Regions from separate parts of the Homo sapiens genome. Here region 2 is linked to region 1. Evidence: fine-mapped expression QTL. A gene starts in region 1. The other region holds a variant in brackets. All regions are shown on one strand. Distances are between the middles of the regions.

What was found. PIP is the estimated chance that this variant, and not a neighbour inherited with it, causes the effect. A credible set is the group of variants that fine-mapping cannot tell apart.
Region 2: its variant is the best candidate, but not a certain one, in a credible set for the expression of DCBLD1 in esophagus muscle (GTEx, PIP 0.54).

The regions. Positions count from the first base shown.
Region 1 is chr6:117,476,342-117,493,082 of GRCh38, forward strand. DCBLD1 (discoidin, CUB and LCCL domain containing 1) reads left to right here and starts at 6,333. Exons shown (of 15, transcript NM_001366458.2): 1 at 6,333-6,552. The coding sequence starts at 6,441. RefSeq lists silencers at 1,801-1,850, 6,209-6,788 and enhancers at 7,149-7,228, 7,239-7,288, 7,319-7,368.
Region 2 is chr6:117,517,733-117,534,473 of GRCh38, forward strand. DCBLD1 (discoidin, CUB and LCCL domain containing 1) reads left to right here. Exons shown (of 15, transcript NM_001366458.2): 3 at 2,084-2,218; 4 at 3,793-3,844; 5 at 7,630-7,702; 6 at 14,528-14,661. Among named protein-coding and RNA genes, the nearest start is that of DCBLD1, 43 kb to the left of the region's middle. The variant G/A (reference allele first, on the strand shown) is at 6,529.

The sequences.
Region 1 (16,741 bases):
TCAATAGAGGGAAAACTTAACTTTCCAAACAATCTGTCTCTTTCTTTTTTTCTACAGTTTATTCAAAAGGGTAGACAAAAAACTTTCTTTTTTTAAAATATTACATGAAAATCTTGTTCAAGAGAGAGAGCCAAATTTACCCTTGCCTTAGTGCACTATTGATGTCAAACCTAATTCTTAATAAAACCTTATAAACAAATCTATCCAATCTTAATCATTATGACCATAACACTAAGATTCTTATAAACCTTTTCTAATCCTTTACAATTTTTGTGACAGAGCAGACTAGTGTTGTAAGAAAAAACCTGTTGTGCTTTTATTCCAATGTTCAATTTATGAAAAAACTAAATAATACTCCTTTAACTTTTAGCTAATATGTTCATATACAGAATTTCTTTTACAAGATTAATTTTTCACAAACATTCCACAACTTGCCCAAATCTTCAGCTTTTTCCTATCTAACTTAAAACAATCCTTTAACCTTTTAATCTAGGCAAAAAATCCACATTCCCATGGTTTCTTATATAATCTTTACCAAAAACACATTTCACTTTCCTTACACAACTTGCATGTAAAACTGTTTTTATTTCCCAAAGATTACTTAAGTTATGTGAACTAAAAGGCATTACACTTCTTACTTTTCTGACGAAATGTTTGGTTTAAGCACTTATTATTTTTTAAGCCAATTAATTAGAGCTCCTGTATATATAAACATCACATGCACAACACAGATAAATAGAAGAAGATCTACTAGTTGTAAGATTTTTCATTTGCCCGTGTTTCTTAATTGAATTACTGGCTTCAGGGTGGAACAGGGACAGGAAAACAGGCAGTTTCTACAGCCTAATAAGCAGGCACAGCTGGAAGGCAAAACAGATTCCCCTAAAATTAAGGGTCCCATTTTATACCAGATCCTGGATCCCCAAAATGAGAAACACTATGGAAAAAGACAGTACAGTGATTTTACTGTGCATTTCATTGCAAAGCAATCTAAAGCCAATCAGTCCATTCTGTGATTAGCCCATCCCTCATAGGAGTCTTATCTCTGGGTGTGTGGGGGCTGGGGAGACACATCTGCATACCTTCCAGGTGGCCAAGAGCATACTTCTCCAATCCAAACACCAAAGAGTCAAGTATTCGCCCATAACTGCCATTAGCCTTTCCTAAAAGTATATTTCCTACCTAGTTATTATACACAAAGTAGTTTTTGATACCCAAGAGTCAAAACATCAGATAACACAATGTAATGCAAAACAGAACAGAGCCTAAGATTTTGAGAGAGATCTATCCACTTTCAATTACTGATTTCTCTGAGGAAAACAGAGGTTTTTCCCAGTGCTGGATCTGGGGCATCTCCTCTGTTTTTCCCAAGGAGTCCCAGGCTGTTAGAACTTGAATATCCACTTTCAATTAAGTGGACTTTTCACCATAGCACTCTTTTTTTTTTTAAAGTCCTTTTAAATCTCTTACTACCACCTTTAGCCATGCCAAACTGCCAATATTTCTGGCTTTTGAACTTTACCAAAAATAATCTCACAGGTGAAACCCATAAGCCTTAACTATTAAGCTACAACATTGGGAAGTTTCCATTGCACTTCCCAGAAGGAGTCTAGAGCAACCAATTTTGAGTTTGCAAAGGCATAAATTTTGGGAATAACTATGACATGAACCCCCAAATTCCTGCTCCCTGGATGGCAGAGACCAAGAGAAAGTACTGCCACATGGTTACAAGGTCAAGCTCCCAAGGACATTTTTCAACATGTGGTCTCTGGGCAAGATGAAAGAGTGAACAGTTAACCTAACAGAAAAGTTAGAAAAGAGAAAGAAGAGAAAGAGAAACACAATTAGGAAACAGCTGTCCTGGGGTTGTCATAAGAACCAACTCAGATCAAGTATATGAAACTTCTTCAAAAACTACTTCTTGAAATGACACAAATGTATCGCATGTAGTACAGAGGCAACTAGAATTTAAAAATAGGGCTGGCCCTGGAAAGTGATACCGTAAATTAGTGAATAATGAATCAAACACAATGACGGAATAAGGGAGAAAGCCTGGATAGGAGAGGCATGCTTGCCTCAATAGCATGCCTAAAGAAGGAATCGTAGGACAATGGTAAGTTTTATCAGAAATGAAAATTAGAGAAAGGCCACTTTGGGAGGAAAGTGTTGACTGTGCCCTGCTGAGCTCTGCCACAGGGAGGGAGGGGTCTGACCTTTGTAGCCTAGCTGTTTAGTGCTTGTGGCAAAAATATCCACATGGGGGTGACAAAGACTCTCTGTGACCAAACAGTCAAGCTCCCCTGAGCCTTCTTTTTATCTAGGCATTGTCCTTGAACCCTGTCTTTGGCCTGCCTAGTCCAGCTTTAGCAAGAATTCTGCTAAGTTAGTTCAGAGAGAATACCCCACCCTCTGTATTGGATCAAGTTTCTCCTCCCTTATCTTTGACATATAAGTCCTTGACCTGCATTCAGCAAGAATCCCATTAAGCCAGTTTACAAGAATCCCCTCTACCCCGATGTCTCCTCCTAGTGATTTTTCATCATGGACTCCCTCACCCTGCCCACTGGATTCACTGAATCCCTGAATTCAAAGTTGAGCCTGATTGCTCCTCTATTGCCGTAATCTTGACACCTATTACAATGCAAATCTGAACAAGTTTCTACACTTTCCCTGCTTCCCACTACCCCCCAGAACCCTGAGATCCTGCTTCTGCCTCCCACTCTGTATTCAGGCTCAAGTTCACTGATAATGTAGGCTCAATCTTTTTTTTTTTTTTTTTTTTTTGAGGCAGAGTCTCGCTCCCGCTCTTCGCCCAGGCTGGAGTATGATGGCATGATCTCGGCTCACTGCAACCTCTGCCTCCTGGGTTCAAGTGATTCTCCTGCCTCAATCTCTTGAGTAGCTGGGATTACAGGCACCCACCACCATGCCTGGCTAATTTTTGTATTTTTAGTAGAGATGGGGTTTCTCCATGCTGGCCAGGCTGGTCTCAAACTCCTGACCTCAGGTGATCCACCTGCCTTGGCCTTCCAAAGTGCTGGGATTACAGGTGTGAGCCACTGTGCCTGGCCAGGTTCAATCTTCATAAGCACCCTGTGATCTCTGTTTCTGAGCTTTAAAAATAATATCTTTTCCTTGTCTGACAAACATTGTTTTCCTTCTAATTAATATCTTCACCTCTCCCAGGCCCTGCCAGACTTTTAAAATCCAGGTTATATGCCCTTCTTCTGTGATTCCATGGTACCCTGTACCTCTGCTATCCCTGTGCCTATCAATCGATATAATTCATTTTGTCTGTATAATTAACTTTCCCAAATTTTTATTATTAGATCATAAATCAGGAAGAGAAGGTATTTATTTTTATTGTACTGCTGTCACATTGTTTCACATATGGAAAATGTCTAAAACATTGGGAATTACAATTGAACTTGAGATTTGGGTGGGGACACAGATTGAAACCATATCAGACATCTATAAGGGCTTCAATTTTATAGCTGATAGTTTTCTTCATAGAGTCACAGGCAGGGTTACTAAATGTTAAGGATAAATTGAATTAGGTCATTGAACTGGACTACAATCTATTTTGAAGCTGTCTGTTTAGAATCATGCTAGGTTTGCAGTTCTGTTTAAATTCTGTCTTACCTAAGCAAGACAGAACACATAATTTATAATATAAAATAAGGCAGCTCCTGACCAGCTGTTATGTATTTTTACAGAAGAGCTGGCAAATGTAAGCATAAATTGCAGTAAGATATGCAAAATAAGGACTGGATGGCAAGTGGGGGGATGGGTTAGAAGTGCAATAGCCTATGAGAGACACTTCCCTAGAGATATTTCCCATCTTAGTATGTGAAATGTTTATAGGTAGATCCTAATAAGCATAATTTTTCTTAATGGAACTTGGTTCTTAGATTCCATCATGCATCATTTTAAAAAATCAAAGTGGAATCGTCTCAAGATTAAAACAAGTATATTAATTCAACAAGGCTTATTTCATTGTATAGAAAAATATACTGTAGTTCCAGCTACTCAGAAGGCTGCGGCAGGAGGACTGAGACCAGGAGCTGGAAGCTGTAGTGCACTGTGATCAGGCCTGTGAATAGACACTGCACTCCAGCTGGGCAACATGGTAAGACCCTTTCTCTAAAAATGATACATACATATACATATACATGTATACACACACACACCCCAGTATATATATTTTATAATCTGTTGTATTTTCACTTTTTTCTTTTATTATGACTTTCTTAACTAGAGATTTTACATTTCAAGGAAGGAATGGCATGATGAAATCAATAGGATCTGGCTGGTCTTTCTGTTTCTTCATTGTTACCAGATCCTAAATCTTTCCCCTTATCTGGCTCAGGATTCAGGTGTACAGCAGATAATTCCATTCCCATCAAGGTACTGACTGAAGTTAAAAAAAAAAAAAAGTCACCCCTGAAAGCCCACCTGCCTCACATTATGAATTCCTCACTGTTAAACAATACTCCCCATTGTCTTTGCTTCATTCATAGCTCACAGTGTCAAACCTGTTGGAGCCTGGAAGCAGCTGCCCAAACTCACTTAGAAAGAATGAAGAGAAATAAGAAAAAGCGAAAACTGAAGTTAGGAGGAGACTCAACGTATCAAAGTATCGTTCTGTGTTTTTGAGTGTAAGAATACTCAATATTTTTATGGGTGTGAATTTACTTTCTGTTAAAAAATGATAAAACCTACCGTTTATTAGGTACTTTCTCTACATGCTAGAACCCAATATACACATTCAGTTAGGTACTTTCTCTACATGATAGAACTTAATATACAAATTCAGTATACACTGAATATACACATATATACCCAGTTTGATTCTGGACCTCAGCTCTTCAACAAAGCTGAGGTCCAGAATCAAACCGGGATCCCCTCCATTTCTAAAGCCCAAGTTCTTTCATCTAAGATATGCTGCCTCAGAGAAAGCAAAGCCCCAAAGACAATCTCATTTGAGATTTTATCAGCTTGTTTATTTAGTTAAAAAAAGAAAAGGAAGAGGAAAAAAGGAACGCATGTATGAAATGAGTCTGTCCAGGGTATCCAAAGATCACGAGGGGCCAATGTTTGCCATTGGAGGGGCTGTTGCTTCCTCTCCGCCTCCACGCTTCCCTGCGCTGCACCTCTAGGTGAAACTTCAGCGTGCCGCGCGGTGGTGCGAAGGTGAGGGCAGCGCGCAGAGGAAGTAAACGGGGACTACAGGGGACCAGAGACGTGAGATAGTCCTTAAAATACATATCTAATCTGTCCTCGTCATTTTCCACTGCCACCACCCTATTCAACTACTCGGTGATAACCCTGTAATTCTCCAGTCTCCAATCTGTCCTCCCCAAACCCTTCTCCGCAACTCCTCAAGAGGATCATCGGGTGGAGTCCTTCCCCCTTCTGAACCTTCCGTGGCTGCTCACTACTCCGAGGACCAAGTTAAACATCCTTTAGGTTATTTAGCTGCACGTCCTGGCCCCTACTCTGTACACTAGCTTCTACATCTGGCCGTGTACCCACCTGTTCACTGTGCTCCAGCTACCTGGCCCTTTCCTCCTTCAGCTTCTTTGCACAACTTGTCTGTTTTGGCTCCTGCTTTAATCTCAGCTTTGATGCCACTTAGGCCTTTCCTAGCTGATTCCCGCCCTCACCCCTGTTACCCGCCATCTAATTACAGCTCTCTAAATGTGCTTCAACAGCACCTTTCATGTCACTGATTGCAATTTGCATTGAATACTTGCCTGATTATTTTTGTCTGCAAGTGCCACATGGGTTTAGCCCTGCTCCTGACAAGCACACTGCTGAACTGAGTAACTTTTGAATGAATGAATGAATGAGTGAATAAATCAGTGAAGGTCCTACTTGGCACTGTCATCATCCTATCATCAAAATATTTCGAGTCCCTCGGTGTTGCTATCCCTGGCATGCCCATCCCCGCGGGCTGGCAAAACCCTGGAGGGGGCAGCCTCCCAAGGCACCGCCGCGGGCTCAGCCCATCTAGGAATGACTCCCGCACCACGCGGCGAGGGGCGGGTCCGGCGGCGAGGTGTCCTGCTGCCTAGCAGGTTCACGTGTACTGGTGCAGGTGGGGAGGAAGGCAAGGAAGGAGCGCAGCAGGGCGCGCCAGATACGTGGAGGGGAGCGCGGGCGGCGCCTCGCTCGCCTCCGGCTTCGCCGTCGGTCACTGCCTGGGAACGCGACTTCCTCCTCTAGGGGCCGACGTGCGGGGCGGGGCGGGGCCGGGCGGGAGACGCCCCCGCAGGGCTGGGCTGAAAGCCGCCCCAATGGGATTCGGTGCGGGGCAGCGACTGCGCCCCGTCCCGGCGCCGCGCTCGTCCGCAGAGGAGGCGGCCCGGCCCGGGCAGCTGCGGCTCGGGATCCGTCGAGGGGAGGCCGAGCTTGCCAAGCTGGCGCCCAGCGGGGTCATGGTGCCCGGCGCCCGCGGCGGCGGCGCACTGGCGCGGGCTGCCGGGCGGGGCCTCCTGGCTTTGCTGCTCGCGGTCTCCGCCCCGCTCCGGCTGCAGGCGGAGGAGCTGGGTGAGTGGAGCGCGTCCGGCTGGCGGCGGGACCCGAGGCGCCAGGGGCGGGCTGAGGGCTGCGGGGCGGGCCGGGCCGGGCCGAGGGCTACGGGGCGGGCCGGGCCTGGGGGGACGGAGCGCGGGAGGAAGTCGGGCTCGCCGCCTGCCATCCGCGGAGTCCGGCTCTACCCGCGGGGCTGGGGGTGAAGTAGGTTACTGCATTCCTTGTCGCTCCCCCACCAAACTCCTTCCTTCCCCCAAAACCAGAGAATTAACCTGGCGTCTCTGCACTTTCTCTCCGCCGCCCCCCAGCCCATTTCACTTAGTTTCCAGACTTCCTGACTCTGCTGGCCCCGTGAGAAGTGACCTGACCCCGAGGGTCGCCTTAGGGGACAGCCGTGTGCAGGGCCAGTTCTTTCCAGCTGCCTTTTGACAAAGCCGCTCCTCGGCCGGCGCTGGGCCCTGCCCTCCCTGCCGTCGCTCCTCCCGCGCGGAATTGGAATCCCGGCGTGTGCGTTCGGGGCTCGTGCGGAATGGCCGGGGCACGTTTGCCGAGGTTGGCCTTGGACGCTGGCGAGCAGGCGGTGCTGCCACCTCCTCTCGAGTGTCCTGCTGGCGCCGCAAGTTGGAATCGTGTGGCTTCCTGTGTATTTGAGCCGGTAGACTCTCAACCAGGCTGCTTTTTCTCTGGAGCTGGTCTTTGACTTGGAGTTAGACCTAATTAACCCACAACCGAGTTTACCCTCTGCCTGTCCAGCATATTAAAGCAGCAACCCCCTTTACCAGCCCTGGGTGTCCCTATTTCATTCGTCCTCATTAATTAGTGCTTTTTTTTTTTTAATAGCAAGGGCCAGCTTTCTGCCGAGTTGTTTCAGTGTTTCCTCTCCTCCCTTGCTCCTGGCCGTATATGCCTGAGCTTATTTAATGGCGCTGAGTCTATCCGGAGTACTTTGACAGCTCCCCCAACCACCATGCTTTCTGGTGAAACAAGAATCAAAACTAAAACCAATGCCGGCATTTTTTTCACTGAACTATGCCTCCATTCTGAAACATTGATACTCGAGATGGTGGTGGTGGTTCCTAAGTTTATATTACATACCAGTTTGTTTAAAAAAACAAAATCCCCAAAACCCTAAAGTGATTTTGTCTGGTACTGTAGCACAATACTAGGCAGATTGTAAAATTGTAATAAATACGTAAGATTTTGTTAAATGCGTAGGACTTTTATAATGGATGTTTTAAATATTTTTATTTTTTTCTCAACTCACAGTTTGAAGGTGCACCTTTAATACTATACGTCTGTGAGAATCAGTCCAGCAGTATGTTCCTGTACTAATCTGGCCAAAGCTGTCACTTATCTTTCCCAATAAAGATTTAGATTTTGTATGGTCATCCAGGCTGTTAACTGGGCACTTTGTGAGAGCGGTTCTCTAGGAACAAGTGTGATTGCTTAGATTCTTTTTAAAAACCTATTATCATTATTGTTATTTTTGAGACAGTGTCTCACTCTGTCGCCCAGGCTGCAGTGCAGTGGCACGATCTCAGCTCACTGCAGCCTCAACCTCCTGGGCTCAAGCAATCCTCCCACCTCAGCCTCCTGAGTAGCTGACACTACAGGTGCATCCCACCACACCTGGCTAATTTTTGTATATTTTGTAGAGACAGGGTTTAGCCATATTACGCAGGCTGGTTTTGAACTCCTGAGCTCAAGTGATCCACCCACCCCGGCCTCCCAAGGTGCTGGGACTACAGGCATGTGTGGTTGCTTAGATTCTTACTGGGCTTCAAATCTTTATAATTTTATAATGTTAGGGTTGTGATAAAATGCTACCATCTGTGTTATAGGCAATTTCGTATTAGACTTTTATTTATTGTGTGGTTTTAGGAAACAAATGGTATAACTTAACCTGAATGTTTATAAGCCTAATCAATACAATTAATTAATTTTTTGTGTGTCAGAGTCTGGTGACCCCATAAAGCTATACTGGGTCCTTTGTAGGGCAACTGCTTGCCTATCTGGTGTTTTTCTTGAATTAAAGTTTTAAAAAAGTGTCCACCCCTCCCGTTGTTTGCAGCCAGCCAGGTCCAGGCATTGGGGTTTAGTGGCCAGAGCTGGGATTATTTCGGCTCCTTATGCCCTGTTCTTCTGGATCCGTTTAACTAAAGGTACATATTTACATAGATTGTTTCACATAATTTTGACCTTTCATAATAAGACATTAAGTTGATCATTAGTTTTTATTCCACTTGTATAAATTCGTAGGTTTGGATTTAGTCCAAATTTATTACCTTGATATACATTTTTGTAGAATAAAATACCCTTCATTTGTGTAATGAATTTGTGCAACCTAAAACTCCCTGCTTCTCTCTCCACCACAAGATTTGCAAATGGTTATTAGCTAAAGTATTCCCTTGTGATTTAAGTGAAGAATCAAAATGAGCGCTTGATCTCTGAGGAAACTTCCAAGTGTAGATTCAAATCTTGCATACTTAAGAATTGCTTCAAAACCCTCTGCCCAACTCTTAATTTGTTATTTAGAAGGTCTGCTGTTAAATCATCTGTCATTTATTTTGGGTTAGACATAGGATCAGCTGATAGATGATGTTTTAGGTGAGTGGCTTTTTTAAAAATCAGCACAAATTTATTCTGTCACCTTCTGTACCAGTGTGTGCACTCACCCTTCTGTTGTCTCATCTGGACAGCTAGCCTTGTAGACTGTAAGATCCTGAGGGCAGAGACTGGGACTATATAGTCTTTGTCTTCCTAGTATCTGACAAAGGTGCTCAGTGTTCCTTGAGTTGAACTGAACAATCTCTTTGTGTTTAGGATATATTTTCAAATGACTTCCTAACTAATGGAAACCAAGTAATAAAGAGCCTACTGACATTCTTTATAAAGGTGTACATCTGCTGCTTCTACTAATTAATTTTGTTTATCAAGCCCAGCTCTCTTGGCATGCTTATTTCTATATGTAAGGATGCCTTTTAAATGAAAATACAGCAGAAAGAAGGGAACATGCCAGCAGAACAATATGTACAATATCTTTTGGCTCTAGTAGATATAATTTGTAACACTCAGAAACAGTGAGTTATATATTAATATTTCAGAGAAGAAAGAGGTTATGTTAAAAAATTCATTAAACAAATCAAATGGTATGTTTAAAGCAGAATTTGAACTCTGAATAATGTCCCAAACTGTTTTTATTAACTTTTCATGTTACAATTTGAACCCTTTAACCTTGTGGAACTGACACAGACTTGAAAATCATTTTAAAAAACCACAGCTTGGAAATTAGTAAGGCATCTGACATTTATGAGGAATTATGTCTTATTTTTAAGATACATGGGGGCATGAATTTAATTGCAGCATTTAGCAAAGGTTTTAGTTGTGTTAAAGCAGGGAAAAAAAGTTTGTTCTGGGAAATATACCCCATAGTGTTTACACCTATTTCTACATGTGTCTTAAAGCATAAAGTCAACTCTGTACGTATTAGAGCAATTAGTTGTTTTTCTTTATTAAAACAAATCAATAAATGTTAGCTATCTTAGTATTCATTACTGTTTATTACTATTGATTTGACAAATATTGAGGACTCTTTGTTCTGTCTCCTCCACTGCCTCTCTGACTTCATTCCCTGAAATGCTCCCCCATACTCAGGCCTCTCTAGCTGTTTGGTTTTTTTGCTATTTCTCCAAAATGACAAGCACTGTTCTACCTCAGAACCTTTGCACATGCTGTTCTCTGCCTGGAATAGTCTTGCCCCAAATATCCACAAAGCTTGCTCCTCCTTCAGTGTTTGTTTAGATGTTGTCCTCTCAGGGAGAACTTTCCTAAGCACTTGAAACCCTCTCTTCATTCCCAGAACTCCATATTCCCCTTCTTAGCTTTCAGTTTTCTCTAGAGCAGGGATCCCTAAGCCCTGGGCTGCAGACTGGTACCTGTCACTGGCCCGTTAGGAGCCGGGCCACACAGCAGGATGTGAGCAACAGGTAATGGAGCATTACCGCCTGAGTTCGCCTCCTGTCAGATCAGCCGGGCATTAGATTCTCATTGGAGCTTGAACTCTATTGTGAACTGCATGTTTGAGGCATCTAGATTGCCACGCTCCTTATGAGAATCTAATGCCTGATGATCTGAGGTGCAGCAGTTTCATCTAGAAACCATCCCCCTCCAACCCAGCCCCATACACGGAAAAATTGTCCTTCACGAAACCCGTCCCTGTTGCCAAAAAGGTTGGTGACCACTGCTCTGGAGCACTTACCCTCTTCCAACAAAGTGTATAATTTACACTTTAAATTGACTGCCTTCCTCCTACTAGATTATAAGGTCTATGAGTTTTGTGCCTTGAACAGTGGCCATATTGGGAGCTCAATAGGGGATGGGTGCTTAGTGAGGATGGGGTGAGAAGGCAGTGAAAACACAATTCCTGCCCTGTAAGACTCAACCTCACTCTAGTTACGAAATCAAAACTGGCCAGAGGTGGCTCACACCTGTAATCCCAGCACTTTGGGTGGTTGAGGCAGGCGGATCACTTGAGCTCAGGAGTTTGAGACAGCCTGAGCAACATAGCGAAATCCCATCTCTAGCGAAAATACAATAAAACTAGCCAGGTGTCGTGGTGTCCTGTGGTCTCGGCTACTCGGGATGCTGAGGTGGGAGGATCTCTTGAGCCTGGGAGACAGTGGTTGCAGTGAGCTGAGATTGAGCCACTGTACTCCAGCCTGGGCAACAGAGCAAGACCCAGTCTCAAATAAAAAAAGAAAAGAAATTAAAACCTGGACACGGCAAAGTAATGAAATTGTATGTCTAATCCAATGTTGAATGTAAAAGTCTGAAAGTACGTATGTAAAATAGAGAAATTCATTCTGGCATATTAGAAATTTGGCATTGAGGGTGAAGGGAAAAATACAGCCAGAATTTCAGATTTTTTTTTTTTTCATTAGACTGAGGAGTAGTTTTGCCTTTTTCCAAACTGAGGAGTCATGTGGATGTTATCTTCCAGATGTTTATTGTCTGCTTTGTATGTTAAAAAAAATAGTTGTTTGCCTTACTGGGTGAGGGAGACTTAGTTTATGGGAAAAATAAAGCAAACGCATGTGATGACTTCTTACCCGATGTGGAAATAGAGTCGTGACTGTGAGCGCTGGTATGCTGAATCTAGAACCAACTGTCAAACTTGCCTTTCAATGGGAGTTGAAGAGGAGGGGTTTTGTGGGATTGTGGGGTAAGCATTGGAGGATTCCCTAAGATCCATGAAAGCAGAGATGAATCTCAGCCTCTTCTTTCACCGCTAGCACCCAGTACGGTGCCTGGCACATAGCAGGCTCCGGGTAACTACTAGTTCCTGAGTCAGCGCATGAATGCTGTGGTTGAGGTTTGAAAAAATTGAAAGGAGGATAATATTCATGTTATTTTAAACAGAAATTGTATATATGACTATTGTGGAGCGTTAGGAAACACTGTGCAGGTATTTAAGAAAATAACTAGGCCGGGCAGGGCGGCTGACTCCTGTAATCCCAGTACTTTGGGAGGCTGAGGTGGACAGATCACTTGAGTCCAGGAGTTCCAGACCAGCCTGGGCAACATGGCGAAACCCCCGACTCTACAAAAAATACAAAAATTTGCCGGGCGTGGTGGCACATGCCTGTAATCCCAGCTACTAGGGAAGCTGAGGTGGGAGGATCCCTTGAGCCCAGGAGGCAGCTGTTGCAGTGAGCTGTGATGCTGCCACCGTACTCCAGCCTGGGCAACAGAGTGAGACCTTGTCTCAAAAAGAAAATAACTAAATTCAACTCTGAAAAGAACCGGGAATCTCTGAGACCCTTTTACAGGCAACAGCAGGAAAACTGCCATGAGTGAGGGGCCGGCAGTCTTGAGCAAATGATCCACTGATTTAGACCGGGGGTCCCCTATGGTCTGCTAATGCTTATACATTTAGGGTATCAGGGGCCTACTTCACCTCAAACATCATTTGGGGACAGTGTCTAGGCATTTGTGACATCAGCACTGTGTTAAGCCATATTGTCGTGTATGACTTTACTGTTTACTGCCATTTCTACTTGATTTATTAATCTCGTTATTAGCTATTTCCTTAGGAGCTACATGCTGTGTAATAATATACCCAATATTTGCAGAAATGCCTTGTGTCTTGTATATAATTATATATGATTGTATTAGTCTGTTCTGTGTTGCTGTAAGGGAATATCTGAGGCTGGGAAATTTATAAAGAAGATAGGTGTATTTGGCTCAAGTTTCTGCAGGCTGTACAGGCATAGCATAAGCGTCTGCTCAGCCTCTGGTGAGGGCCTCAGGAAGCTTGCGGTCATGACAGAAGGTGAAGGAGAAGCATGTGCATCACATAGTGAGAGACAGAGCAAGAGACATGCTCTTAACCATCCAGCTCTTGTGTGAAGTAGTAGCAAGAACTCACTTATCACCAAGGGGATGGTGCCAAGCCATTCATGAGGGATCTGTCCCTATGATCCAATACCTCTCACCAGGCCCCACCTCCAGCATTGGGGATCATATTCCAACATGAGATCTGGAGGGGACAAAACATCCAAACCATATCAACAATAATTTTAGGCTAGGTAGATTTTTTTGTAGGAAAAGCTGCAAAGGATAATACTGAAATGAGGTAACAGCTTAAGTAGCTCTGTGTTACCCCCATACCACCCCCCTTTTAAAAATAGAGCTGTGCTTGAGCTTTTTTAAAAAACAAAAAAGAGGCCGGGCGCCGTGGCTCATGCCTGTAATCCCAGCACTTTGGGAGGCCGAGGCGGGTGGATCACAAGGTCAGGAGATCAAGACCATCATGGTCTAACTCGGTGAAACCCCGTCTCTACTAAAAATACAAAAAATTAGCCGGGCGTGGTGGCGGGTGCCTGTGGTCCCAGCTACTTGGGAGGCTGAGGCAGGAGAATGGCGTGAACCCGGGAGGCGGAGCTTGCAGTGAGCGGAGATCACGCCCCTGCACTCCAGCCTGGGTGACAGAGCGAGACTCCGTCTCAAAAAAAAAGAATAAATTTCTCTTAGGTTGGAGCTTTCTTCCCTACTTTCCCAATGATCTTCCCTAATGCTTACAACAGAAGCAGAACAGTTGTGAAACAAAGTAGGGTGTCCATAAATAACATTGTCCTGATATATCATAATCATGGAAAATGCTACACATAGAACCATTGAGGACATGTTTTAGTTCTATATATTTTTATGTAAATGCACACACACACACACACACACACACACACACCCCTATAGCAAATACATGTGTGTACACACACATTTACTATTGTTTTTATTAAATATTGTGTAGACACAAAATTATAGACTATAAATAAAGGTATAAAGAACAACAATAAAACTAATACCTGGGTTCCCCCCTCTGCTCCCTAGTCTGTGTATGCTTTTATATTCTGATTTTTTAAATCTGTGTTTCATTGAAAGTTTTTTATTACTTGGAAAAATTCCATATTTATATTTATTTTAGAATTTGCCTTGAAGTAAACCAAAAACTTATTTCTAAGTCATTTATTGCTACTGAGAAATATCTAATAGGAAAGTGGAATTTTTGTCCAGGCCAACTTATAATTGATGTGTCTCGTCAATGTTTTTGTTTTATATTATTCAAATTACTCTCTCTTACTAATGGAGTCAAATAATTTGCCTATACATACTTTATTTGAGAAAAGTACATAAGTTTAAACATACTAAGTATCAGAAAGGTAAGGTGTATTTTTTTAATCCTTCTTTGGTGAGATTCTTAATTTGTATTGAATGGATCAGGCTTGTTCATTATTAGACTATTTGGAGTTTATTGAGACCCAAGTTAGTTTTTATAGTCAGCATCTTCAAACTCAAATTATAACCGCTGTTGTGGCCTTCTTATTCAGTGTTCAACATATTTACATTTACTGAAAAAGAATAGTCTTTGTTTTCTTTCTTCACAAAATTAAAATCCTTGCAAACTAATAATATGTATAGCTCCATTTTTGCATTTGAGCATGTTTAGTGATTGTGCTTAAAGGTTGAGTGTAAATGATTTTTAAGAAGCACGGTATTCTTGAAAAACAAAGGAAAGAAAAACTTTATTTCACTATTATTTCTGACAAAAAACAAGACAAAAGGATATTAAAAGTGTGATGTCCAGTTAAATTTGAATTACCAAGGCATAAAATTTCCTACAGGGAAAATAGATAAACATCTATGTGTTTGTTGCCTAACTTTTAAATGGCTGAGTGGATTTAATTCAGCCTTTTTATTGCTTTTCACAAAAGCAAGTTTACCTCATATTAAAATGTGGTTGATTTCAGCCCAAAAGAGAAAACTGTAGAGGCTTAATGACCCATGGGACCACTGGAACATGAGATTCATATATTTGAATTGCTTCCATTCTGAGGATTTTAGAATGGAGGCTGCTTATTTTGAGAATAAAATGAACCAAGGTTTGCCCCCATTCCGCCCACCATTTTTTTGGGATCCCTGGAAAGCTCCTGCTTTGCCAAGAGACTAAAATAGGAGATGGCCTATTGCAGACAGAAAAATGGCCCTGTACCTACTGTCACTGCCAGCTCAGAAGGGTCTACAAGTCTTTTGAGACTTCAAAATCTATTAATAAACTAAAAATTTATTAAGGATTTCTTGACTTTTTTCCTATTTCATTTGAATCTCTAAATATTTTCTTGCATAGCCACAATGTTATGAGCACACCTAAGAAAACTAATAGTTTTTCTTTAATATCATCTAATACTCAAGTCATATTCAAATTTCCCAAGCTATCCTAAACATGTCTTCTAACCTTTGGTTTGTACAAAGATCCAAACAAGGTCTACATATTAGTTATTATGTCTCTTTAGTCACTTTTAATCTATCACTGACCCCCACCCACATACTTTTTCTTTTCCTGCGAGGAAACCAGGTTCAGTTGTTCTGTGACACAGCTCACGTCCTAAAGTGTACTCACCGCTTCAGAGTAGTTTATCTTTTACTTGGTGCGCTATACCTGTATTTCTGTATAAGCCCGAAATTTGACCTAAAGACTCGATTAGATTCAGACTAAGTGTTTTTGGTAAAAGTACTCAAAGGTGCTATGTACTTCTAATTGTATCACAATAGGACGCATATGTTATTATTGTTGTGATTATTGCTCCACTTTTAGTGATGCTCAGAATCACCAGTGACTTTAGGAAGTGATACATCGATCTCTCCATTATAAAACTGCCGTCTCTCTATGAGTTACAAGTAATCTTTGGAATGTTAGTTTCTGACTCAGTAAAAGTATTTCCCTGTCAACAATTCACTGTATGGTTTAAGCATCCAATCACTGTTGTTGCTTGTCCAGTCTGATTTTTCATATAGACAAATTTTAAACCTCTATCTTCATATGTATTTTGAATCGTTGTATGTTTTTTACATCGAATTTAATCCCAACAATTCTGAGAGCTATTGAGGGAACTGAGATTCAGAGAAATAATTATTTACCCAAGACACATTTACTTTGTGTGCCCAAAGTGGGAACCAGGCACGTATCTTACAATTCTAAATGCCTTGAAATGGTTTCCTGCCCTTTGTCTCCAAGGATACCCATCATATGTTCCTATCCAGGGGAGAAAAAGTTAGAAAAGAAGTCATAGGGGAACACAGTTTGAGGGAGTTACTTATGCAATTAAGCCTGAAATTCATAGTCTTTGGTTTATATTTGAGGTGATCACATTTGCCATAGAAATATTAAGATTTTTTAAAGTCCTTACTGGTAGCTAACCATTGCTTTTATAGCATTGCAATACATCCAGCAGTGCAGAATATGGAATGTGCAAAAGCAGTAAAGTTTTCAGGACTGGACTATGATATGAGTTTTATGAGGTTTATTTTTTCTCTCAACTCTCATGTTTCATACCTTATTAGATGTATGATAAGACACCATATGTCTCCCCAGTGAGATTTGCTATTTTCTTGTCAGTAAACATTGATTGCTTGTTCCGTGGATATGGTGCATAAACCTACGCTTGCACAAAGCTTCCCATCCTATTTCTTTGTTTATTTTCCACAGTATGCTCAAGTAATTCCTGAATTGACACTTTTATCCAGGTTTCAGAAATGCCATTTTGGCTTAACTATAGATCGTGGAACTTATTGTTGCCTGTCCTAGACTTATAAATGAAATCTGGAGTGAAAATAAGTATCAGATACAGATGTGTTCCAATTTTAGGAA
Region 2 (16,741 bases), 41 kb after region 1:
CTCTGAAGTCCTGGCCCGAGTTCTACGTTGTCCCCTTCCAGCCATAGCTGGAGCAGCTGGGACACAAGACACCAAGTTCCTAGGCTGCACACAGCACAGGGATGCTAGTCCTGGCCCAGGAAACCACTTTTTCCTCCTAGGCCTCTGGGTCTGTGATGGGAAGGGTTGCCTTGAAGACCTCTGACATGCCCTGGAGACATTTTCCACATTGTCTTGGGGATTAACATTCAGTTCTTCATTACTTATGTAAATTTCTGCAGCTGGCTTGAATTTCTCCTCAGAAAATGGGATTTTCTTTTCTATCGCACTGTCAGGCTGCAAATTTTCTGAACTTTTATGCTCTGCTTCCCTTATAAAACTGAATGCCTTTAACAGTACCCAAGTTACCTCGTGAATGCTTTCCTATTTAGAAATGTTTTCCACGTGATACCCTAAATCATCTCTCTCAAGTTCAAAGTTCCACAAATCTCTAAGGCAAGGGCAAAATGCCACCAGTCTCTTTGCTCAAACATAACAAGAGTCACCTTTGCTCCAGTTCCCAACCAGTTCTTCATTTCCATCTGAGACCACCTCAGCGTGGACATTATTGTCCATATCGCTATCAGCATTTTGGGCAAAACCATTCAACAAACCTCTAGGAAGTTCCAAACTTTCCCACATTTTCCTGTCTTCTTAGCCCTCCAAACTGTTCCAACCTCTGCCTGTTACCCAGTTCCAAAGTCACTTCCACATCTTCGGGTATCTTTTCAGCAGCACCCCACTCTACTGGCACCAACTTAACTGTATTAGTCCGTTTTCATGCTGCTGATAAGGACATACCTGAGACTGGGCAATTTACAAGAGAAAGGTTTAATTGGACTTACAGTCCCACATGGCTAGGAAAGCCTCAAATCATGGTAGAAGGCAAAAGACATGTCTCATATGGTGGCAGACAAAAGAAATGAGCTCGTGCAGGGGAACTCCTTTTTTAAAAAACCATCAGATCTCATGAGACTTATTCACTGTCATGAGAACAGCACGGGAAACACCTTCCCCCATGATTCAGTTACCTCCCACCAGGTCCCTCCCACAACACATGGGAATTCAAGATGAGATTTAGGTGGGGACACAGCAAAACCATATCAAGCAGTTTTGTCCCTATTGGTTCTGGTTAATATAACCCGGTTTTATTCGTATTGACTTGGAGCAGTCTTTTTCTTTTATTCTTCTTCCTTCATCATGATTGTTGTTGCCGCTGACTATTTCCATACTGTTTTTGAGAAAAGTTAATAAATAATACCTCTCTTCAAAATTTGCTTGCTAATCTCTATTTCATAGAGATTGTCTTGCGTATGTTACTTTCGAAATGACAAGTTAAAAGCTAAACTTCAGTTTGAGTAGTCTTAGGAAGAGTTTTCGTTATTTTAAGCTCCAAATGTAATTTTGCCCTTTGAAAGTTCATTGAGATCCCTATTGCTTTTCAAGCAACTTATTTTGGAAACAATGTTATACCCTTAATTGTATAATTTTGTACTATAATATTTCAAAATGCTTTAGAAATTATTCTGCTTTTATGTACATTTTATAAATCAAAATGAATTTTGGGGATTAACCAGAAGTTACTGTAAAGGAAAATCAGTGTGTATGCTGCATGTGAATGCTGCATGTGAATAAAATTCTTACCATGCTTTGCAAAGTCTTTTAACTTTAAAACTTCCCCGAAAAAATGATTTTTTTAGTTTATTTGAGCAAATTTAGGAGGCCCCTAGAATAACATTTTTGTAATAAAATTTTCTTTACTACCTAATGTGTTTGACCTTTGTCTTCTTTTTACAAAAAACAAAACCTATCTCTTGGGTTGCTCACAGTTAACTAGTTCCAGCCTATTGCTTGTCTAGAGTAAGCCACTTTCCCCCTTGGCTTAGTTCACAATCAGTCAGAAATTATCAGTCTGAGCGTCAAGCTAAATTTCAGTTGGTAAAGATTATAATCATACATATGTATTGTCTAGTAAATTTGGCCTTTCAAGGAAAAAAATGCCATATACCAGTCATTTGTGCTGGTATAAATTTTGAAATGTGCCACAAGTGTGCTTTGTTTTTAGGTCCATACTGTGGAAGTATGACTGTTCCCAAAGAACTCTTGTTGAACACAAGTGAAGTAACCGTCCGCTTTGAGAGTGGATCCCACATTTCTGGCCGGGGTTTTTTGCTGACCTATGCGAGCAGCGACCATCCAGGTATAACGGAAGAATCAACACAAATCTCTAAATGTTATCTGTCTAAGAATTCCTCTTGCCACTTATCCCCATCCCTGGACATAATTGTGGACTCAGATGCAGAATTAAGATATGAGGGAGAAGAGGAACATGGTATCTTTGTAAATGGTTAGGTCTGAACTGAATCATATTGCAGCACAGGTGTGTCCAATCTTTTGGCTTCCCTGGGCCACATTAGAAGAAGAATTGTCTTGGGGCCACACATAAAATACACTAACAATAGCTGATGAGCTAAAAAAAATTTGCAAAAAATTTTTATAATTATGTTTTACGAAACTTTAGGAATTTGTGTTGGGCTGCATCCAAGGCCATCCTGGGCTGCATGTGGCCCAAGGGGCATGGGTTGGACAAGCTTATTAGCATGTTAGATTGATCAGTTGACTTATATGGGATAGGATTCATCTCATTTTTCCTAAAAACCTTGGATAACACACTTTTGTGTTCCCCTCCTGACCCTTCGAAGTCTTCACTATTCTCTGGAGCCCTCCCCCATCCTCCTCCCTAGCTCAGGGGCAACGCTTTTCACCAGTGAGCCCCTCCGCAACACACGCCAGTACACCAGCACGGGAGGCATGCACAGTGTGTGTAGGATGAGGAAGTCAGTGTCACACAGTGTAATAACTTTAAAGCTGAAAACTTGTATGGGAGAGAAGGGAAGGGAAACACGAACACTGATGAGAGAGAGAAGCACGGGCTCCTGTCCTGGGCTCTTGTGCTTCAGAGTAATTCTGTGCAGCCCATACCAAATCTGCCTATGGTCATAGAGGTTTCTGCTGTCAGTCCTCTCTGGCAGAAAAGCTCTGGGAGTGAGGTGCGCCATTCATTTTCCTCTTAGCCAATCAGCTCTGACTAATCACAGCAGATGCCTGCATTGCCAGTGTTCACCATATATTGCTCCCAAAGAACTATTACAGTAAGTGTGGAATATTTTGGAAACCATACTATGTTGATCTAAATGCATCAAGGTCCACTGTATCTTAGCCTCTATTGCTGAATATTAGTTTGGTTCTGTAAATTACTCCAGAGAGCACCTTCTTTTTTAAAATGCTTTGTCCTGGTTGATGAAAGCTTATATGCTGTAGGTTTTCTTGGTAAAGATGTGCTTCTCTGTCACCAGATGCCACTGGCTAAATTGTTGAATTAAAATGTTTGTGGGAACCTTCTCTGTGAACTGTGTTGGGCTTTTGAAATTATTTTCTTCCTGCCAGGGGACATTATACACATGGTCTTCATAGGCATATAGTGGATAGCAACTAAAGAGTATTGTTTTTTTCTGTTAACTACAGATTCTGCTATCATTTACTAGGTGATTGTGTTGAAAAACTGTCATTGGTGGCAGAAAAAAGAAACGAAAGGAACTCATTAAATACTGGAGACAGTGATTCTCAGTGTTTATTTTTAAAAGGAAAATTCTGATAACTACATAGTGAATAAATGCTTTTTAAAAACTCTTTTATTTTAAAAGAAAGCTTTGCAGCATGAGTGTCCTAGTTTTTATTCATTCTATTAATTGCAATTATCTTTATTTATGACAGATTTAATAACATGTTTGGAACGAGCTAGCCATTATTTGAAGACAGAATACAGGTAAGTATAGGTATCCTAACTGTGTTGCAGTCGTGTATTGCTGAACATTTTGTTTTCTTTCACGTTAAACCAGATACGTTTGTACTTAAAGCTCTTTTTACCATTCATGTTGTAACTAATGAGGAATATTTGAAATAGTTTGTTATATAGCAGGAAGTCAGCAAACCTTTTCTGTCAAGGGGTAGATAATAAATATTTCAGGTTTTCCAGGCCATACAATCTCTGTTGCATTTATTCATATAATCTCTGTTGCTGTTGTAGCAAAAAAGCAACCATAGACACCATGTATACACTAACAGACATGCTGTGTTTCAATAAAACTGTATTTACCAAAACATCAGTAGGGCGGATTTGGCTCACAGGCCATAGTTTGCTGACCCCTGAGTTCCACTATAGGGCCAATGAATCATTACCGAGTCTAGACTGTATTTTTTTTCCTGGCTGGTATTTGGGAGTGACCTTTAAAATTCTTTCATTTGGGAGGAGGTGCATTTTGTCTTTACCACTAGAGAAAAACCTACTGCAAATAAGATGAAAATTTTCAACCCAGCTTTAGCTGGAAAAACTACTTAGTCACTTTGATGTACATTTGCTCATCTATCAAGTAAAACAGTCTAAAGCAGAATTTCTTAGCCTTGGCACTATTGATATTTTGGTCAGATAATTCTTTATATTGCAGGGCTGTCCTGTGCGTCGTTAGATACTTAGCAGCATCCCTGGCCTCTATGTCCTAGATGTCAGTTGTGATAACCAAGAATGTCTCCAGACATTGCCAAATGTCTCATGGTGGGCAGAATCGCCCCCAGTGGAGAGCCACTAGTCTAGAGATCATTGTCAACAACACTAACAAAAACTATGACTGTTTTTTTTTTTCTCTTTTTATGAAAGAGTGTCTTGCTCTTTTGCCCAGGCTGGAGTGCAGTGGTATAATTATAGCTCACTACAGCCTCAAACTCCAGGGCTCAAAGTATGCTCCTGCCTCAGCCTCCCAAGTAGCTGGGACGACAGGTGTGCACCATCATACCTGGCTAATTTTTAAATTTTTTTAGAAATGGGTGTCTTTCTATATTGTCCAAGCTGATCTCTAACTTCTGGACTCAGCTTCCCAAAGTGCTGGGATTACAAGTGTGAATCATGGCACCCAGCTATGACTCTCTAGAGTGCTTTCCTAGTGCTCGATATAGCTGTCTGCACTTAGCACAGAGTAAGTAGCTCTTGTGACCATTTCAACATGTCTGCAAGGAAGGTTCTGTTACATCCTAAAAACCAAAGTACAAACCAATTAAGACTTGCTGAGGGCTACACACCTCGTAAGTGTAGCCTGGGAGTCAGACTTAAGAGCCTGTGGTCCTATCTCAGACATTTGGACATTCTAATGAATGAGATTATTTTATGTGCAGAAACAACTCTAGTGTTAACTAATATTATGTCTAATAGGGGGAAAAATGAAAATGAGTGATAATTAAATATTGGTTTTAAAGTTACTGTTCATCCAATATACACATATGCCAGTATTATCTATTATAGCTATACCTCTACAGTCCCAGTTGGTGATAGGGCCTCTGGACATCAAATGGTCATTTCCTGTTCTCCTAAAGAAAGGGAATATATCCAAGCTTACAGGGTGGCATTATGGTGCCAGATTATCTCAGCTTTAGCCCAGCCATTTTGTAGTGTTTAGATTAAAGATAAGGCCTGGTGACTGATACAGGTCCACAAGCCCTCATCCATAATTATGAAGTATAGAAAGTTTTGAAAGCCTTTTGTAACTCATTTGGTGGTGATTCTTGATTAATGTGACCTTAAATTCGTTTGACAGCAAAATTGGACTAGATTAACATGTCTTTACATATGTTATTTAATATGATTATTAAGGCATTTGACACAAGTATTTTAATGTTTTTTATTAATGTGTGCAGACCCCACCAGCGTATTACATCATATACATCATTAGAACTGTTTTACTTTTCTAGAATCCAAGAAATTCTGAATTCTGAAATACAGCTGATTCTAAGGGAATTGGCTCTAGGGAATTGTTACCCTGTAATGGGAATTCCCATTATTTTTATTTCTTAATTCCGCGAGTACTGCTGCAATGCAGGGACTCCAAAAGGTCAATGGGAAAAAATTATGGAATATTTATTTGGATAGTTTTGATAATTAGTTGTTACATATATAATTTGCCAAGGCAGCAGGAGGACACTGAGAGGAAATGAAATAAAAACAACTTCTATTCTGGAATCTGTTTGGGCTGGTACACTCTTTTTAAACAAACCAAGTAAACATTATGTAAAGTGGTGTCTATATAGAAGTAAGGGCACATGGCATGCATCTTCAAAGCTGACAACATTTTTATAATACTTTGGCTTCCTTTTTGTGTGTTTTTTATAGATGTTTATAGCTGTCTTCATATCTTGTTGATATGTTGACACTTGAAGGGACTAGAGATGAAGAAACAATCTAAGAGAGATTATATGCAATATCAGGGTCCCACTGCTAGCTAGGTAGTGCTGGAGCCTGTGTCACTCTGCTCCTAACACTGACACCCTTCAGCTGCACCACATACTATGACATGTTTCTGGAAAGTTTCTTGAAAAATGACTGTTAAGTAAATTGAATCCTAATTTTTTTTTTTTTTTTGAGACGGAGTTTTGCTCTTGGTCCCCAGGCTGGAGTACAGTGGC[G/A]CAATCTGGTCTCACTGCAAACTCCGCCTCCCAGGTTCAAGTGATTCCCTCCTGCCTCAGCCTCCCAAGCAGCTGGGATTACAGGCGTCTGCCACCACACCGGGCTAATTTTTTTGTATTTTTAGTAGAGATGGGGTTTCACCATGTTGGCCAGTCTGATCTCAAACTCCAGACCTCAGGTTATCCACCCGCCTTGGCCTCCCAAAGTGCTGAGATTACAGGCGTGAGCCACTGTGTCCGGCCTTGGAATCCTAATTTTAAAATATATCCTTTTTTTCTGATTGCAAAAGTATTTCATAACTAATGTAGGCCAGACCATCTAATACGGTAGCCACTAGCCACGGGTACCTAATGAGCACTTGAACTGTGGTGAGTGCAAATTGAGGGGTGTTGTATAAAATGCACCCCAGATTTTGGAAGTTAAATCAAAAAAAGAGAAAATATCTTATTGGTATTTATTTCTGTTTATTACATTTAGAAATGATAAAATTTGAACATGCTGGATTAAATAGAATATATTATTAATTTTGCATATTTCTTTTTACTTTTTAAAAATGTGACTACTCGAATATTTAAATTTGTATATGTGGCTCCCATTATATTTCTATCAGACAGTGCTAATATTATGGCAATATTACAGTATGTATAACACGGAAAGTGAAAGTTCCTCACAATCCTACTCCCAGAGAGAATCTAGGGATATTCTTCTTTGTCTTTTTTATCCATAGAAAACAAAATTGTTACATATTTTAAACATTTCTTATAGAAACAAGATTATACTATATATAATGTTTAGAAATGTTCCTGTTTCTGAAAAATATTTATTGGAAGTCTTAGAATCAAGTAAAGTGCATTAGGGAAGCTCATTGTTTAATAGACTTTATGGTGAATCCTTATATAAAACTAATAATTATTGTATAAAAGTTGCCTTCAGATGAACATTATAGATCAATCTGTATTTTCACAAATCAGGTTTCTAATTTGCCATTAAAGCAAGATATTATATGGAGGGCAGAAAATACTTTAAAAATTTAAGTACAGTTTAATTTTTTTGGTTGTGTAATTTAATAAAATATAAATTATTTATTTTTCTTTTTCCAGCAAATTCTGCCCAGCTGGTTGTAGAGACGTAGCAGGAGACATTTCTGGGAATATGGTAGATGGATATAGAGATGTAAGTAATTGAGGGTAATGGCAGAGAATGAATTAAAAGGAGTAAGTGCTTTACTCTGCCTAAATTAATTACTGAGTAAAGTCAAATGAGATATAAAACTCTAGATAGATGCATGAGTCTCTCTCCTCTGAGAATAAATGAAATAAGTATAAAAACCAAGGTTACCCATGCATTCATTCCTATTAGCATTTCCAGCTAAGCTTACTATAAATGAAATGAAAAAACTTTGCCATCTCAGAGTATTATTCCATCCACTTTTTGTAAGAGGTTATAGATTTGCATCCTTTTTGTTATGGTTTATTTCTTTAACATTCCAACTGGTTCCTGTAATAGAGCAAAGGACATGAATATTCGTATCATAGAATAGTGACATTGTGTCTGGGGCCAGTGAAGCCATCCACCCTGCTCTTATTCGCCTTTCTCTTTGCAAACCAAGTTCTTATGTCCAGTAAGACTACCTGGGTTATGTAGTAATACATTGTTCCTGCATGTTGTATCTCAGATACATAATCCTCCACTTGTTTCTATTTACAGAAATCTAGTATCTGATTTTTTAAAAATTTACATTGCTATTTGAAGTAGTTGGGTTTATAGCCTAGCTTTTGGAAAGTGCCTGAGTTATTAGAAATCTATAGCAAAAACCTATTGTTGTGAAACTGTTCTTAAAGTTATTAACGTGTATTTTTATGCCTGTGGGAAAATAACCTTTATCTACTTGTTCTAGGTGATTGATAAATCCTCTGTGGCATAGGGAAAAAGTTTGACTGTGATTTTCTCTTTTAGCACATTCTGATTCTGGGAACAGCAGATTTTGTTATTTTGCCTTTCGTTCCCCTTTTCTGTTTTTTTATTTACAAGATTGACACTGGATACTCATTTGACCTATAAATTGACTCTTAAAATGTTTTACACTATTTCAGTTTGAAGATTTACTTGGCTCAGGCAATTCTTAAATGACTACAGGGAATTAAGAGAAATAAAAAGTTGACATTTTTTCCCAGCAATAGAAAGTTTTTATTTATCATTTTCCTGTTCTATGCAAGAAATGTAAGAATTATGTACAATAAGAGAAATAGCATAGTTTTTTCTTAATGTAGATATTTATCTTACCTCCTCCTGACAGAGCTATATTTTTTAGCATAACAGGTAAATGGTTTCCTGCATGGTAGATGGGAGTACATGATCCCTAAGTGCTGGCAAACAGGTTTCCTATTTGACCCACTAACTGATTTTGCACTATTTGCTTTTAGAATGATTTTATCTGCAAGGAAATTTTGTGTTTTGAAAGCTACTCTCTTCAAAGAACTCGGATTAGTGCCTTTTTTGTGTATGTCAATGTCATGGATGTATTAGATATTTATTGCTGCATAATAATATTACCATAAACTTAGAGGCTTAAAGTGGCACATATTTATTATCTCATTTTCTGTGGGTTAGGAGACTGGACATGGTTTAGCTGGGTTCTCTGCTTCAGGGTCTTATAAAGGTGCAACAAAGGTGTCAGCTGGGGCTGCAATCTCATTGGAGGCTCAGCTGGGGAAGGATCTGCTTCTAAGCTCATGTGGTGTTGACAGCATTCAGTTACTTGTGTGTTATTGGATTGAGGGCCTCGGTTTCTTCCTGGATTTTGGCTGGAGGCCATCCTCAGTTCTTGCCATGTGGACCTTCCCAACGTGGCCACTTGCATCCTCAAAGCAAACAAGGGAGAGTCTTTGAGCAAAGGGATCTCCTAGCAAGATAGATTACACTCTTATATAATGTTATCATGGGAGTGGTATCCCATCACTTTTGCCGTATTCTTATAGACTTAGAAGAAAATCTCAGCCCCCACCCACACTCAGGGGGATTCAGAGGGATTCCACAAGAGGGGATACAGGGAGCAGGGATCATGGGGGTTATCTTAGAGTCTGCCTCCACAGTGCCTTCATCTTGGGAAATGCGTTCAGTTGTAGCAAGTCTTTTCAGAAGAATCTTTGCAAAACCAAAGCATATCCTATAGGTCAGGATAACAGAATATGTAAAATAAATAACTAGAGGAGCTGTTGAAGAAGGAGGTACCCTGTCTCAGGGAAGAATATGTTGTCTTACAGAGCTATTATAGAAAAGGCATTGGTTTATTCTGTGTTGCTCCAAAAGGCAGAACTGGGATCAGTGGATAAAAGTTACAGGGATGCCAATTTCAGCTGCATATAAGGAATAATTGAACAATGCAAAATGGGATAGGCTGTCTCGAGAAACAGTGATTTCCTAGTCACTGAAAATGTCAGGTGTAGATGTTAAAACCATTTGTCAGGGATAGACTGTCTTTGTGTGGGAAAGGTGCTGTAGAGTGGAGATGGGGGTGGTCTGTCAGGAGGTGTGAGGGGGGAACTTTAAAGTCCTTTTTGAATTTTTGAGATTCTGTAATTCTGTCTCCTACTGACAAATTAAGGCATCCAAATTGGTGTATGTTTCCAATGCCAGTGAAGGAATATGGGCTTCTCTTAAGATCTGCCTCACCTGCCCCCAGAACAGTTTTTCTCTTGGCACCTTCTCCCCAGCCTGCTAACTAAACCATCTGTTTTTAAGCAGAACATATCACTTAATTAATTTGTTTCAGCAATTCTCCTCTCCCCAAAATGTTCAAGAAGTACTGTAAAATAGAGACAGTAAACATGTAGTGCGCTGCAGTTTAGGAGGAGAAGGGGAGAAACTGGGCCTCTTGTACACACCCAGAAAAAGCCAGAAGGAATACATTATAATGGCAAGTGATTATCTCTGGGTAATGACAATATGAGTGATTTTTTTTCATTATTTCCAGCATTTCTATAAAGAATGCACATTTTGTGAAGAAAACATTATTGACATGGTAATTAGGAGGACTGTAACAGCACAGAAATAATTCATATGATGGAAAGGGGAATATATTTGATAATTTAACATTTTGCTATCATTCCACCAACATTTTTAAGCATGTGTTTTATTCTACCTTACTGGTTTTGGTTCATGTTTTATTAAATGCAACCTAAAATGTTTACTTTTTTGTTACACTTCCTTTTAAAACATTGCCAACACTGTTTTAGTACAAGTTGATTTTTCCTAAAGGAAGAGTTAAGAAAATTCTGGGATGATTTGATAGTTGCTTGAAAGTTGTTTAGCCTTAGTTCACACTAATCTGTTTGGCCATCATTTATGGCTTAGTGAACTTCAGAAATGTTTATTGTAGATAATGCCATCCACCTGCAATTGCCTGAGGCATGAAGGTATTCTCTTCAGCTGGCCATTGCATTCCCTTTCCTAAAGAATTATTACATTTACATTATTCTGTTTAAGTATATTTTGTTTAAGATAATTTACTAATTAAAACCATTTGTCAGGGATAGCCGAACCTCTTAGAATCAAGTAAAATGCATTAGGGAAGCTCGTTGTTTTTTGTTTGTTTTTTGAGACAGAGTCTCGTTCTGTCACCCAGGCTGGAGTGCAGTGGTGTGATCTTGGCTCACTGCAAGCTCCACTTCCTGGGTTCACGCCATTCTCCTGCCTCAGCCTCATGAGTAGCTGGGACTACAGACGCCTGCCACCATGCCCGGCTAATTTTTTGTATTTTTAGTAGAGACGGGGTTTCACTGTGTTAGCCAGGATGGTCTCGACCTCCTGACCTTGTATCCACCTGCCTTGGCCTCCCAAAGTGCTGGGATTACAGGTGTGAGCCACTGTGCCCAGCCAGGAAGCTCATTGTTTAATAGACTTTATGGTGAATCCTTATATGAAACAAATAATTATTGTGTAAAAGTTGCCTTCAGATGAACATTGTAGATCAATCTATATTTTCACAAATCAGGTTTCTAATTTGCCGTTAAAGCAAGATATTATACGGAGGACAGAAAGTATTTAAGTACAGTTTAGTATTTTTGGTTGTGTAATTTAATAAAATATAAATTATTTATTTTTCTTTTTCCAGCAAATTCTGCCCAGCTGGTTGTAGAGACGTTCTGCTCTACAGAGCAGAATGTACATAGGCTAGGTACATATGCTAGGTAATATGTACCCATGTACATGGGTTAAGTAATATGGCTTTCCAATATTTACATTTCAGTGAGACTTAGACTTCAAAATAGCTAGAAAATAAAAGTATAAATTGTACCATCTGTTCAAAAGGGAATTTTCAAAAATCAGGTTCAATAAATGTGAATTTTAAAAATCAGTACCAAAAAAGTGACAAATAAACATCAATTTCCTTTAAGTTGGATGGATGAGGGAGTGACTATTTTAAAGAAAATAATCCTGGAAAATGCTGGTAATTTTATCATAATAATATGATAGTGAGACTTGATGGCTAGTCTTTTGGAGATGTATCCTATAGCCTACAATTAATATTAAAAGAAATGGCAAAACCCACAATTACTTTTGCATCAACCTATTATGGAAAGCCATAGCTGCAATTAAATAAAAATTTTATAAAAAAGGTATTCACCATTGAATTCCTTCAATACTGGGTACTGTGAGAAACGAGAATATTTGTTGGCCAATGATGCTGTTAGATCCTGTTGCTCGTTGGCCTGTGAACCTGTCATCTTACAGCCAAGGAGGCCCTGGGACATGCCAAGTCCAGTGAGAGCTCTCAATAGGCAGGGTTCCTAGTATGAAGACCGGGGATCCCAAGGACAGTGGGAATAGCTGCTCAGCAGACCACTGAACTGATCTGGTTTTCATTCTGGGGTTTAGCGAGGGAGACAGGCCTGCATGGGTCCTATAATATAAACGGTGTACTGGGTACCCTTTAGAATCACAAGGTGACAGACCTTCAGAAAAGACACTAGACCAGCAGTCCCGAACCTTTTTGGCAACAGGGACCACTTTTGTGAAAGACAGTTTTTCCACAGACGGGGTGGGGGATGGTTTCAGGATGAAAGTGTTCCACCTCAGATCACCAGGAATTAGATTCTCATAAGGAGCACACAGCCTAGATTCCTCACATGCGCAGTTGTCAGTAGGATTTGCACCCCTGTGAGAATCTAATGCCTTTGCTGATCTGACAAGAGGTAGAGCTCAGGCGGTAATGTGTGCTTGCCCACTCCTCACCTCCTGCTGTGTGGCCCGGTTCCTAACAGGCCACTGACCAGTACCAGTCCACAGCCTGGGGGCTTGGGGACCCATGCACTAGACAACATCCAGTCCAGGCTTGTCATTGTCCAGAGGAATGGGAAGCCAGGTCAAGAGCAGTGGAATGACTTGCATATACTTTGTGGAGTTAGAGGCAAAGCCAGGATGACAAGATAAATTGCTAAATTTAAATTCAGGACTTTTCCTCTTCAACTGGCTCCTCTGTTTTGTTTGGACCCAGGAGTCCAAACTGATGATAAGAAAGCTTTTTAATGAAAGAAAATTCAGGAACAATATACAGAAAATTCAGGAAAGATGAAAAAGCAACCTGCATTCTTATTAAAGAGTACGATCTTTACGATCTTTTTCTCTTCTAATTTTAATTCTTTTTTTCCTCCAAGATTAGGGAGGGTAGTATTTGCATCTGTTTCAGTATTCTCATTTTTTTTCTTTCTGTGGTGAAATCTTTCCTCTCTTTTGTTAGGATAGCAGTTATTGCAAAACTGACTCACTTTGCCAAACCTAATCTAGTTTGGGAAATATGAACTCTCTAAATTGAATATCACAAAATTCTCAACTTTATTGCAACTATATTGCAAAATATGATTTGTCTCATTAGTCCTTATACTGTTGTAACTTAAGTCTAAGGGAACTTTTCCATTGTAAATAAGGTAAGCAGCATTGTCATTAACAAAAAGAGAAATTCTTGAGTCCAGTTACTGAGATAAATTTCATGAGCTGCCTTTCTATGTTGGCATTAATAGTCATGAAGAAGTGGAGCATAGCTAAGGTTTATTTAGGAAATTATGTTTCTTATCCCCTCACTCCTGGGTCTGAGTGCCTTAACACTCTTCCACAGAGGTCTACACTTGGGGACCCACAGGCCTGGGCACCCCATAGAAAGTTCTAGTCGTTTCTGTAGCGCCACTTCCTGACAGAGCCGATTCCAATCCCACAACCGCCTGTAAATCAGAGCCAGTCTGCTGTTCCTGCTGCATCTGTCAGAACAGCCAGCAGCCTGCTGAGACCTCACACTGAACATCGCAGGGCTGAGCTGGCACTGGCTTTTTGATGCCTCCTGAGGGGATTCAGGAAGTGAGATGGAGGCTGTCAGCCCTGAGTTGCTCATCATCCCTCTAGGAACTTCGTTAAGCTTTCTGTTCCATTTAATGTTCTGTGGCTGTCATTACCATTGTGGTTTTGGTACCTTGATAAATCTCTAATTTAAAAATGAACATGTGGAATTGAAAGTTCAGCTTCTTAAATGATAACTTGGCATGTGTGTCTAATAGCCTAAGTATAAGAAACTGGATCTGTTATCGATTTCTGCTTAACAAGCCACTCCAAAACTTAGTGGCTTAAAGTAGCAGCCATTTTATTTACTGATGAGTTTGAGGGTGAGCAATTTGCCTCCACCCACACTGGATTGGATTAGTAAGCTCCCTTAGCCTGGAATCACTCTTGTGGCTGCCATCATATGGCAGGTTAACTGGGGCTCAAGAGTCTAAGGTGGCTTCACTCACATGTGTAGCAGTTAGCTAGGCCCTGTTATCTGCAGCAGAACAAAGCAAGTCACATGGTCCAGAGTCAGTGAGGGAGGTGACAACTCCAGGGCATGGCCATTGGAAGGCTTTATTCATTGGGGCCACTACTATAAATTACCACAGAAACAAAATAGAAAACTCCAACTATATTTTAACTGTGTTCTTTTAAGTTCTGCATAATGATGTTGCTGTGTTTCAGACCTCTTTATTGTGCAAAGCTGCCATCCATGCAGGAATAATTGCTGATGAACTAGGTGGCCAGATCAGTGTGCTTCAGCGCAAAGGGATCAGTCGATATGAAGGGATTCTGGCCAATGGTGTTCTTTCGAGGGAGTAAGTATTTTTTTTCAGTATCGTTTGTTCTGAGTAGAAGGTAACCCTGAAGGATAATTAACCAGCTCACAACTTTGAAAAGACAGCAGGGATGTGATAGCAAGGGTTTGTCAACTGGAAAAATATGCATGAGTGCTTAGAGCAGCATTTCTGGTCTCTGCATGGATGATAAATGTAGCAATCAGAAAGCTCACTGGTTATGCTGACATGTAAATTAAAATGGCACACTCTGAAGCCCTGGGGCAGAGGAGTGTTTTTACTCTCAGGTGCTTTTGTGGGAGAAAATAAAGGCTTAATCCTTTTTGGGTTTTTACAGCTTCTATAAGTTACTGGTTGTCTCCAATGTTATCATCATCTGAAACCCTTACAGAACCACTGAGCTCCCTAGAACACTCCTAGAGACAGTTGTTTAGTGATGAGTTTGGGAAGTGAAGAAAGATGGCCTTTGTTAACACTGTTTAAAAAGATGGCCTTTGTTAACGTTATATTCTTCGTTTGTTTTTATCCTGTGCTCTTTTAGCTTCATGAGAAAAAAAATGTGTTAAGTGCTTTAAATGGTTCAACTTAATCTTTTCATATTTTCAGATTTCCTCAGCCATTAGAAGGTGTAAAACTAGAGCTGTGTAGAACTCAGTGTCAGCCTACCCTGTGGTCCAGACGTCCACACATATAAACAGGCAGTTCAGAATGGCCAAGTGGGAGACACTCCTGGAGTGGAAACCTAGTGAGAGAAAAGTGCTCCTTGAGCCACTGTATTTCTCTCTCTCATTCTCTCCTTCTGCCTTCTGCAACTGTTTTTTGGACAGGTTTTCATATGGCCTGGGTTCCAAGAATAAGGCACAAGACAGAGGTTTTAGGCGTTTTGGGATCCAGAAGTGGGGGAAAAAATGTCAGGACCTATATATTCTATCACTCATTAATCTGTATGACATTCTCCCCCTGCCCTTGCTATTTTGTCCTAGCCCCCTCTTGCATCAGAAGGAACATGGTCGTATTTTGCTGTTCCATTTTCACAATGGATGATGGGCCATCTTATCTTGGATAGGTTCTCAAGTTAGTCGGCATAGATATGGTGACTCTGATGTTATTTTGATAATTGTTTAGTAGTATTTTCCTTCCCCCTCCTACTTTTTATTTAAGTGTATTTTAGTTAGCAATGTCATAGGTCAAATAGGTATCCTGACCACAAGTTATAACATTGCTTTTATTGGAAAATGTGTCTTAAGTTCTGAAGAACCGACTTACGAACTCACATATAAACTTTGGGACTAACACCCATTTTATGATTGAGGTTGTTGGCCCATGTTCATAGGCAGTGGCATTTAGAAGCAGTAACTGAAGTTAAGGGAGATTACAGGGTTAGAGTCAAGACTGAGGAGCAATGTTAGAGAGGGGTGGTGGTGGCCATCAGCACACCATGCTCACGGCCAGGAGGCTGGCTGGTGGGTGTCTGTGGAGAAAAGGCAGAGCCTCTCACTGGCAATTCTGAGTTCAGGGGTCGGGGTGAGAGTAACTAGAGAAGATGTTCCAACATAACTCTTTCACAAGCAATGCAAGTAGTACTGTACGTAATCCACAAAAGACTTCCATCCACCAAGGACAGCAGTGCATGCCGTGCACTTGGACATGCAGGCTTACCTCATGATATTTGTGTTCTCTGCCTACCATAACCCTCCCATTTACTTTCCCCTTCTGGATAGATTTTTAGCTATGAGAGGACACAAAGTATTCTTTTCATATTGCCTGAACATTCAAAGACAAATTAGTCTCTAAATTTGTGCCAAGGTTTAAGATCCAAAGGTTTAGTAACAGTATGCTATTAGAAATTAAAATCTTCACTCAATAAAATTATACATATATACACACACATATATATAACATTTTTCACATAAATATTTGCCACATACTTTTCAGAACATTAAATTTTATTTTAAAGTTTACATCCTGATTTATAGTAAAAGTGATCACTTATGCACAGTAAACCTTTAAATGCCAACTTGAACTTGACTTTTGAGAATGTATTCCTTTTTATGTTTTTTGATGGTTTCTTCTGTTGATACGAGGGTGCTACTTCAGGAAG